2 separate regions of the Homo sapiens genome follow, and region 1 is linked to region 2. Evidence: fine-mapped QTL for protein levels in blood plasma. Region 2 holds a variant in brackets. A gene starts in the other region. All regions are shown on their reverse strands.

Region 1 (4,384 bases), not on the chromosome of region 2:
TATGGAATATGCTGGTCGTAGGGAATTGTTGGGAATACTGCCAGTTTTCCGAAGTGCTTGTACCAAGGTTTCTGACACTTCTTCACCAAAACCTTGCAGAGTTGGCTGTTTAGAAAAATTTTAGTGTCTGCAGTCATCTCATGAGATTTAAGTTTTCATTTCTTGGATTAGTTATGAAGTTGAGCATGTTTTCATACTTCCATCATCTATTAAATATTATCTTTTATAAGCGTTTGTTGAAGTCACTTTCCCACTTTCTACAACATCGTTGATTTACAGAAACCCTTTATTCTGGATACAAGCCTTTTGTCACTTCTGTGTGTTGAAACCTCTCTTCCCTCACCCTGGCTCGTCTTTTCCCTCCCACGGTGGTGTATTTTGAAAAAGAAATAATACTATTTTCATGATCAATTTTTCCACTTGTCCTTTATGGTTTGTGGTTTTCCATCTTATTTAAAATAACTGCAAGGCTATTGGAGATCTTATAATATGATCTAAAACTGCTGTTTTCCCTCTCACATTTGGGTCTACCCTTCTCCTGATGTGGATTTTTTTTTCATCTGATAAAAGTCAAGTGTAACTTCTTGTTTTTCCATATGACTCTCCAGTAGTTTGTGCCACTCATTGAAAGTTTATTCTTTCACTATTGCTCTTTAGAGCCACCATGTCATAAATCTAGGGTCCGTATGTGCCTGGATTTGCTTCTGCACTCCCTACTCACTTCCCTAGGTTTGCTGTGTACGCCTAAGCCAGCCCCACACTGTCTCCATCACTATCGCTTGATAATGACTGCTGGTGTCACTTCAAGCAACTCACCCTTGTTTTTTCTTGCTCAAGAATAGCATGGCTATCAGCCTCTTGCCTTTATATAAATTTTATTTATTTATTTATTTATTTGTTTATTTATTTAGACAGAGTTTCACTCTGTTGCCCAGGCTGGAGTGCAGTGGTGCAATCTCGGCTCACTGCAACCTCCACCTCCCGGGTTCAAGCAATTCTCCCACCTCAGCCTCCTGAGTAGCTGGGACTACAGGCATGTACCACCACACCCTGCTAAATATATATATTATATATTTTTTGAGATGGAATCTCACTCTGTCGTCCAGGCTGGAGTACAGTGGCTCGATCTTGGCTCACTGCAACCTCCGCCTCCTGGGTTCAAGCAATTCTCCTGTCTCAGCCTCCTAAGTAGCTGGGTTTACAGGTGCCCACCATCATGCCTAGCTAATTTTTGTATTTTTAGTAGAGACAGGGTTTTACCATGTTGGCCAGGCTGGTCTTGAATTCCTGACCTCAAGTAATCTACCTGTCTCAGCCTCCTAAAGTGATGGGATTACAGGTGTGAGCCACTGCACCCGGCCCTTTATATAAATTTTAAATTCACCATGTCAATTGTCACAGAAAATGGTAGTTTAATTGATAATACAGTGGATATTTAGATAAATTAAGAGAAGATGAATGTTTTTCCTATATTTGGTATTCTAATCCACACATATAGAATATCCTTCTAATTATTTTAATCTTCTTTTAGGTCTTTCTGTTCCTATTTGATAGTTTTGTACACAGAAGACCAGCATGGATGTTGTTAGACTTATTCACAGTTATTTGAATTTGGTGTTGCTGATGCAAATTTTTTAAATTTCATTTTTAAATTCTTTGAGGCTAGTTTTTAGAAGCACAATTGATTTTTGCTAAACTTTTTATTCTGCTAGTTTATCTGTAGAAACTCTAGAATTTTCTACATCCTCAATCATGTCTTCTGAAAATAACAACTTTGTGTCTGCCTTTCCAATCTTTTTATGGTTTTGTTCTCTTGCCTACTGCACTGGACAGTGACATGCAATACAATGTTGACCACAGTGGTGATGACAAGCATCCTTATTTGTTCTCAGTCTCTGAGGATGGTTTTCCATTTTTCCTGTTAATTATGTTGTAACTTCTGTATCCACAGCTTCCAAAGACCTCTTTCTATATTCTGTTGTTTCTGTTGGTCCTTATACACATTGTCTTTTATTCCCATGAGCCTGGTTATCGTTGATTGTGTTTTAACATTTCATTTGAAAAAAATAAAACACTTTGCAGAAATAATGACCTGGGATGATGTCATTCTCCTTCAGAGAAGATTTTTGTTTCTTTCAGCAAGGAGCCTGGGGGCATGAGCAATAATTCCAGGAGTTGAGATTCCTTTCCTGGGACACTTAGATGTCTCAAAACCAGTTTGCAGCCCTTGTGAATGTTGGTTGTTGCTCACTCATCCTATTGCTAGGGTGCAGCCCTTCTGAAAGCCAACCCCAAACCCATACCTTTGGCAGGCCGTAGGCCCCAGTCTTTGACCTTCAGCTCTGCAAGATGGTGAAATCACTGCCCAACTTCTCACCTCTCTTTTGGAGATTGGCAAATCCCTGTGCAAAAAGAGGTCCCCACTACTAGTTTCACTTCTCTAAGATTTCTGTGGCTCCTGAGAGCTTGGCAAAGTAATCCTTTACTACATAGCTAGCTTGACGGTGCCTTCGAGCAAATCTCTTTTTAAAGGTTTTGTCTGTTTGTCCTTAATAGGATGCCCCCAAATACCTAAACTGCCATTGCCAGGAATCAAATGACTTTTGTTGATCCAATGTTAAGATATTTTAACTTGCCAGAATCTTGCATTCTTTCATACTCTTGGGAACATTGACTTGATATCTGAAGGTGGTGTTGACTTCTCACCTGAAATAAACCTATTGATGTTGCAAGGAAGAGGAGGTCCCCTCACACCCAGGGGGCAGCTGGCAAATGGAATTGAGGGGCACAGACCTGCTGGCTTTCTCCCTGTTCTGACCCAATCCCAGGTGAGTGCTGCTCCTGAATTGGATCCTCTCCAAGAAAGGAGGCCGCACCACTGACACCCAGACCTCTCCCGCCTGGGCCAGTAGCTCAGGGACACTAAGCGGTGTCTGAGGCAATGAAGCCTCCTGCCGTTGTCTCTCAACAGGCTGGAGCCAACACACACAAACACACACAGTCGAGAGTCGTTGTGGTGCCCAGAGAGCCTGGACACAAGGTCCTGTGTCTCCTGGATCCCCCACCCCTGGGCCGCCCCTCCACTTCTCTCCCACCTGGGGAGCCCTTGAGTTTGGAAACCCAGTCTACACACGCTGGCTCAGAGAAGTTGCAAACCACAAAACAACACCTCTCCCTGCTCCTTAGTCCTGCTACCATCTGACTCTCGTTAGTGACTATTTCTATACGTTCTAAAAATCCCGCACAAAGTGTCCACAGCGTGGCCTGGCTAAGCATGATTCACAGCACGAGATGCGGAGTAGGAACATGGCCTCAGGGATTTGGGGGAACAAGAGGCATCCCCACCTTCAGGTGAAATGAGCAATCCCAGTGATCTACAAGGCGTTAGACAGAATTGAGTCCAATGCCTGGCTCTTACTAGTGGAGTGACTTCAATTTCTCCAGCTGTAACTTTCAAATAATTTACTCCACCGAATGGGGCTGGTGCAAGATGATATGATGGAAATAGTATTTGGGACATAACAAGTGCTCAACATTTTTTTCCTCTCCATCCATGATAAGTGCCTGATGACGGACAAACCCTGAATTTTCTGGGAACAGATGAGGCAAGGAAGCGTCTTCAGCAAAACCTTCCTTATCCCCCAAGGTTAAGGTCAAGGTTTCCGAGTATTGCTTGGGGACAGCTGGGGAATGGAAAGGGGGTGTGGGGGCTGTGTTCTCCTTAAGCCACAAGCAAAGCCGATGCTTTCCAGCAGAGGAGTCTCAGGAGCTCTCTGGACTGGGAGCAGGGTGTCTTTGCTGGGGGAAGAGAGCCCAATGGGGTGGGCATCTTGCTGGAGCCTAGTGGAAGGAAACATCCTTTGAGATGACCTCATACCTCCTGTTGGTGCAACTAAGCAGCCCATAGGAAGTGGGTGTCCCCCAGGGAGTTGAGAAACTGTGGCACAAGGCGAGAGCTGGTTTCCTCTGCCCTGTTAGAGCTGGGGGACTCTTCAGAGTCAAAGGCCAGAGAGCATGGAGCTGAGTGGAGCCACCATGGCCCGGGGGCTCGCTGTCCTGCTAGTCTTGTTCCTGCATATCAAGAACCTGCCTGCCCAGGCTGCGGACACATGTCCAGGTGAGACAGACCTGGGTTTTCTGGTCCCTAAAAGCTGGTAACAACCCCACTCACTGACACTCGGGTGTCCCAGGCAAAACCTTTTATGCACATCTTCCTGTGAAGATGCCCAACAGATCTGTTTTATCCTCAGGCAAGGACATGGAGGCTCAGGGCAGCTGAGGCATTGCCCAGGGTCATGGAGGGATAGGGGAGGGATGTCACCAGGTCTGTCTGCCTCGAAAGCCCAGGATTTGCCCATTGGAGCTTCATAGGTGGGTCTGGAAT
Region 2 (4,388 bases):
CCTGCTTGCAAGAACCAATTGTTAAATTTTCAGGAATTTTACAAGGAAGTTGACATCATGTTTATAGTTTGAATTTGGCCATAAGAGTTTTTGCACCATGGAAATGGGCAGTTCTACAAAGAAGGGGTTCCCAGTTAAATCGGAGCTCCAGTTAAATGGCTTAACATTTACCAGCACATGACTGGCCATCACCTAAACTGGGAAATCTCAAGGACTGGGACTGCACCTGACTTTTCTCTGTGCTCAGCACAGAGTCAGGCACAGAAGCCAACTGGCTTTACAGTGGGGGATGACCTGGGGCCTGGAGAGAGGATCCCTGATATGAGACTACTCCTGAGACAGCTAGTGAGAAGGCAGGTGGCAGAAGGGAACGGATTGGAGAAAGGACCCTTGTGTGGCTGGTGAAAGCTTCCCTGCCATATCCTCATCCCCCGACCACACAATAGGGCACAGCTCAGCAGGCAACACAACCTTTAGTATAAGTTACAGCCTCACACTGGCTCCTAGCCCATGGGAGCCTCCAGATGGGTCTATGATATTAGTCCCCAGATGTTCATCTCTTGGGCTGGGGGTACTCCTCAGAGCTAAGTCCACCGTGGCACCCAGTCCATTCCAGACCACTGTGCAAACTCAGCCCTCATTACTTACCAGGGTTTTCTGGCCAACCTGTGACTTGGCCCCCACCCCAGGTAGCTCAGCTCCAGACTCTGGTATGTGATCTTGGTAAGCCACCTTCCTCTCTGGGCCTGTTTCTCCATTTGACTTGATTAGGCTGGACTCCAACCTAGGTACCTTGGCAGTACAGCCAGCTACTTGCATGGGAGTCAGGCCAGGGGTGTCATTGACCTTGAGCTCTTGCCTTTCTTGAAACTTAATTCCCCCAACTTATACACACAAACGATGACTAGGGGTTATGGGAACAGTTGACTCTGGACCACAGAGTGAATATCCTGAGCCCCTGTCAAATGACGGAGCATGGGGTCATCCAGCATGAGTCACTGATGGTCCATATCTGGGGAGACTGTGGCGTCTGCACAAGTCCTGGTCCTCTACAGCTTCCCAATATAAACCTGCACAGGCTGAAGTGTTCTGCTCCTACAGCCGAATGTCCTTAGTGTTCTCGCTACCAGCCGGCGTGGACTCTGTCCGCCTAGAGTCCTCACTGCTGCCCAACACATCTTCTATCCTCTGCATGTCAGTTCTGTCGGATCTGCGCAGGCCCAGCCTGCGGCGAGCCGGGGTGGCAGGGCTGGGGCCAGTGGGTGGCTTGGCATCTCGGGCAAAGCGTACGAGCCTCTGCCCAGCCAGGAAGTAGAGCACGGGGTCAAGGCAACTGTTAGCACTGGCCAGCGGCCGGGTAACCTTGTAGGCCATGTTGATGGCGTTGAGGGTGTGGCAGCTGAGGTCCAGCGAGCGGAAGGAGTAGTAGAGGGTGCGGGTGACGTGGAATGGCAGGAAGCAGAGGGCGAAGACAGCCAGCACCACGGCGATGGTGCGCACGGACTTGCGCTTGGCCCTAGGCAGGCCGCCCGAGGTCCCGTAGGCTGGCTTTAGCAGTCGCCGAGCCATGAGCACGTAACAGACAAGGATGACGGCAAAGGGCACCGCGAAGAGCAGGCCCAGCATGACTGAGCTGTAGGCCACGAAGCGGCTGAAGAGCTCGGGTGCCGAGGTGTCGTGGCAGGTTACGCGGCCCCCGCGCGCGCTGGTGGTGACAAAGTAGAGCACGGGGGCCTGGCAGGCCAGCACCAACACCCACACGGCCCCGGCCACCCGGCGAGCGTAGCGGGCCCGGCCCCAGCGCAGGGAGCGCAGAGGTCGTAAGACGCCCAGACACCGGTGCACGCTGATGCAGGTGAGGAAGAGGATGCTGCAGTAAAGGTTGGTGTAGAAGAGGAAGCGCACCAGCTTGCAGAGCACCGTGCTGAAGGGCCAGTGGTCGCCGCGGGCGTAGTAATAGACCAGCAGCGGCAGGGAGGCCGCATACAGTGCATCAGACACAGCCAGGTGGAACATATATGTGGTGGACGCATTCCAGGTCTTGAGGCGGCACAAGAAGATGTAGAGCGCCACGGCGTTCAGACACAGCCCA[G/A]GCACGCACACCACGCCGTAGGACACAGGCAGCAGCACGTACTTGAAGTCCTCGTTGAAGCGGCACCTGTAGCCCAGCTCATCCCCATCCCAGGTGCCATTGATGGTGTCATTCCAGGGGCCCAGGTCTGCTGCCATCGCCCTGCAGGGAAGGGAGGGGTGGGGCCATCAGGGTTGTGGCCGGAGCGCCCCTAGGGGACCTGACACAGCCACCTGACCAGGGCTTTCATTGCCATCTGACTTGGATCTGGACCTGGAACCTCCAAGCTCTGGAACCTTGAGAATGCATGAGATCAATGAATAAATATCAGGATCACACAATTGTCAAACTTGAGAACAGGGGTAGACAAACTATAGTCCAAAGGCCAGATCCAGTCTGCTTTTGTAAATTCAGCTTTGTTGGAACACAACGGTGCCCATCTGTTTACAAAGAGTTGAGTAGTTGTGATAAAGACCATATGGCCTGTGAAGTCTAAAATATTCACTATCTGACCTTTAAAAAAAGTTAGCTCAAGCTGGCTACGGTGGCTCATGCCTATAATCCTAGCCACTCAGGAGGCCAAGGCAGAAACCAGGTGTTTAAGCCCAGCCTAGGCAACAAAGTGAGACCCCATCTCTACAAAATTCTTTTAAAAATTAGCCAGGCATGCTGGCACACACCCGTAGTCCCAGCTACTTGAAGTTTTCTTACCCCTCTCTAGAACCTCAGGATCAGAGTTTTAGATCTAGGATTCTGAGCTCTAGAATCTGAGGACCTGGGGGTGCCAGAGCAGGTAATTTTGAGTTCATGGGAAGGGGCCTTTGAGGCTGGCTGGCCCTGCTTCACACCCAATGCCTACTGCCTGCAGAGGCATTTCTGGCCAGTGGGCATCCAACAGCCCCCTGCAGGCATTACAGAGTTCTCTCCAGCTCATTTTCCCACTCTCTGGGAGGCTCTGGGCCCATGCCTAGTGTTCTGGTATTTGAGGAAGTATTTCCAAGGGTCTCCTTCTTCAGTTATTCCTTCACTTTTTACATCTTCCTCTATTCTGGCACTTTCTATATCTATCAACAGCAGTCCTGCCCCTGAGCCTGTGAGGCTACCAGGGAATCCCCCTGAAGTAACCCCCGTGAAGAGTCCAGGGAAATCTGGGTTGGAGATAGGGATAGGGGGCCAAGGGATCTTCTTTTGTGTGGTAAATGCAGCTTCTTCCATGCCTATCCAGTTTCTCTCTGCATATCGTCAGTATCATGGTGTCCCCCCCAACCTTGTCCCCACTGAGCATATAACACACCCATGGGGACTGACCATCCAACAGACAGTGAGTGCCCAGGGAGCAGCTTGTCCCCTCCCTCTCCTCCTTACCCCTACCCAGGTGACCAATTAAGAGCTCTCTCGCAGCTGGGAGGTAGAGGACAGACATCCCGGCCTGGAAGACAAAGACGTGCCTAACGTCCCAGGAGGCAGGTTGGAAATCATAGCAGAAGTCCTGGGTGGGCAAGTTTGAGAAAAACACAAAAAAGCACTTTCTAGCAGTGTGAAGGGGCAGGAGGAGCTAACATTTTTCAAACCCTACTACTAAGCATGCTTTCTAAAAGTTATTCACTTAGGCCGGGCGCGGTGGCTCACACCTGTAATCCCACCACTTTGGGAGGCTGAGGCGGGTGGATCACTTGAGGCCAGGAGTTCAAGACCAACCTGGCCAACATGGAGAAACCCTGTCTCTACTAAAAATACACACACACAAAATTAGCCTGGTGTGGTGGTAGTCCCAGCTACTCGGAAGTCTGAGGTGGGAGGATCACCTGGGCCCAGGAGGTGGAGGTTGCAGTGAGCTAAAATCATGCCACTGTACTCCAGCCTGGGTGACACAGCAAGACTCTGTCTCAGAAAAAAAAAAGTTACTACACTTTATCCATATGATGTGTTCTGGGGGCCAAGTCACCATCCCCAGTTCTCCAATCAAGAGGCTAAGATACAGATCATGTAAGTTATTTGGTCAAGGTCATGCCACTGGGGATGGGCTGCAATATCTGTCCAGGTCCAGCCCCTGGAAGTGGCTGTAGGAGGGTGGTAGTGAACTCCCTGTTTATGGGAGTATGCAAGTGGCTCTCTAGCAGAGGCTGCAGAAGGGCTTGTGCCTGTGTGGGGGTGTGTCTGGGAGGGTGGAAAGGGCAGATGAAGAGTGAGTCCTCCTCATCCTGAGAATCTGGGGCCGTATAATTCCCTTTATTTTATTTTATTTGTTTATTTTTAATTTTTAATTTTTAGACGGAGTCCACCTCTGTTGCCAAGGCTGGAGTACAATGGCCTGATC

Direction of the effects. Alleles are on the strand shown, and positions count from the first base shown. The strength of an association depends on the size of the effect and on how common the allele is.
For the plasma level of the protein whose gene starts at base 3,974 in region 1, G is the low allele of the variant in region 2 and A is the other (weak association).

What was found. PIP is the posterior inclusion probability: the model's chance that the variant is causal. The UK Biobank Pharma Proteomics Project read protein levels with antibody pairs (Olink). The fine-mapping took linkage between variants from a reference panel, not from the people measured, so its PIPs are less certain.
Region 1: it holds the start of FCN1, and the variant in region 2 is fine-mapped to the plasma level of the FCN1 protein (UK Biobank, PIP above 0.99).

Annotation. Positions count from the first base shown.
Region 1 is chr9:134,917,502-134,921,885 of GRCh38, reverse strand. FCN1 (ficolin 1) reads left to right here and starts at 3,974. Exons shown (of 9, transcript NM_002003.5): 1 at 3,974-4,117. The coding sequence starts at 4,015.
Region 2 is chr11:73,232,001-73,236,388 of GRCh38, reverse strand. P2RY2 (purinergic receptor P2Y2) reads right to left here. Exons shown (of 3, transcript NM_002564.4): 3 at 1-2,233. The coding sequence starts at 2,229. The coding sequence ends at 1,096. Among named protein-coding and RNA genes, the nearest start is that of P2RY2, 16 kb to the right of the region's middle. The variant G/A (reference allele first, on the strand shown) is at 2,093.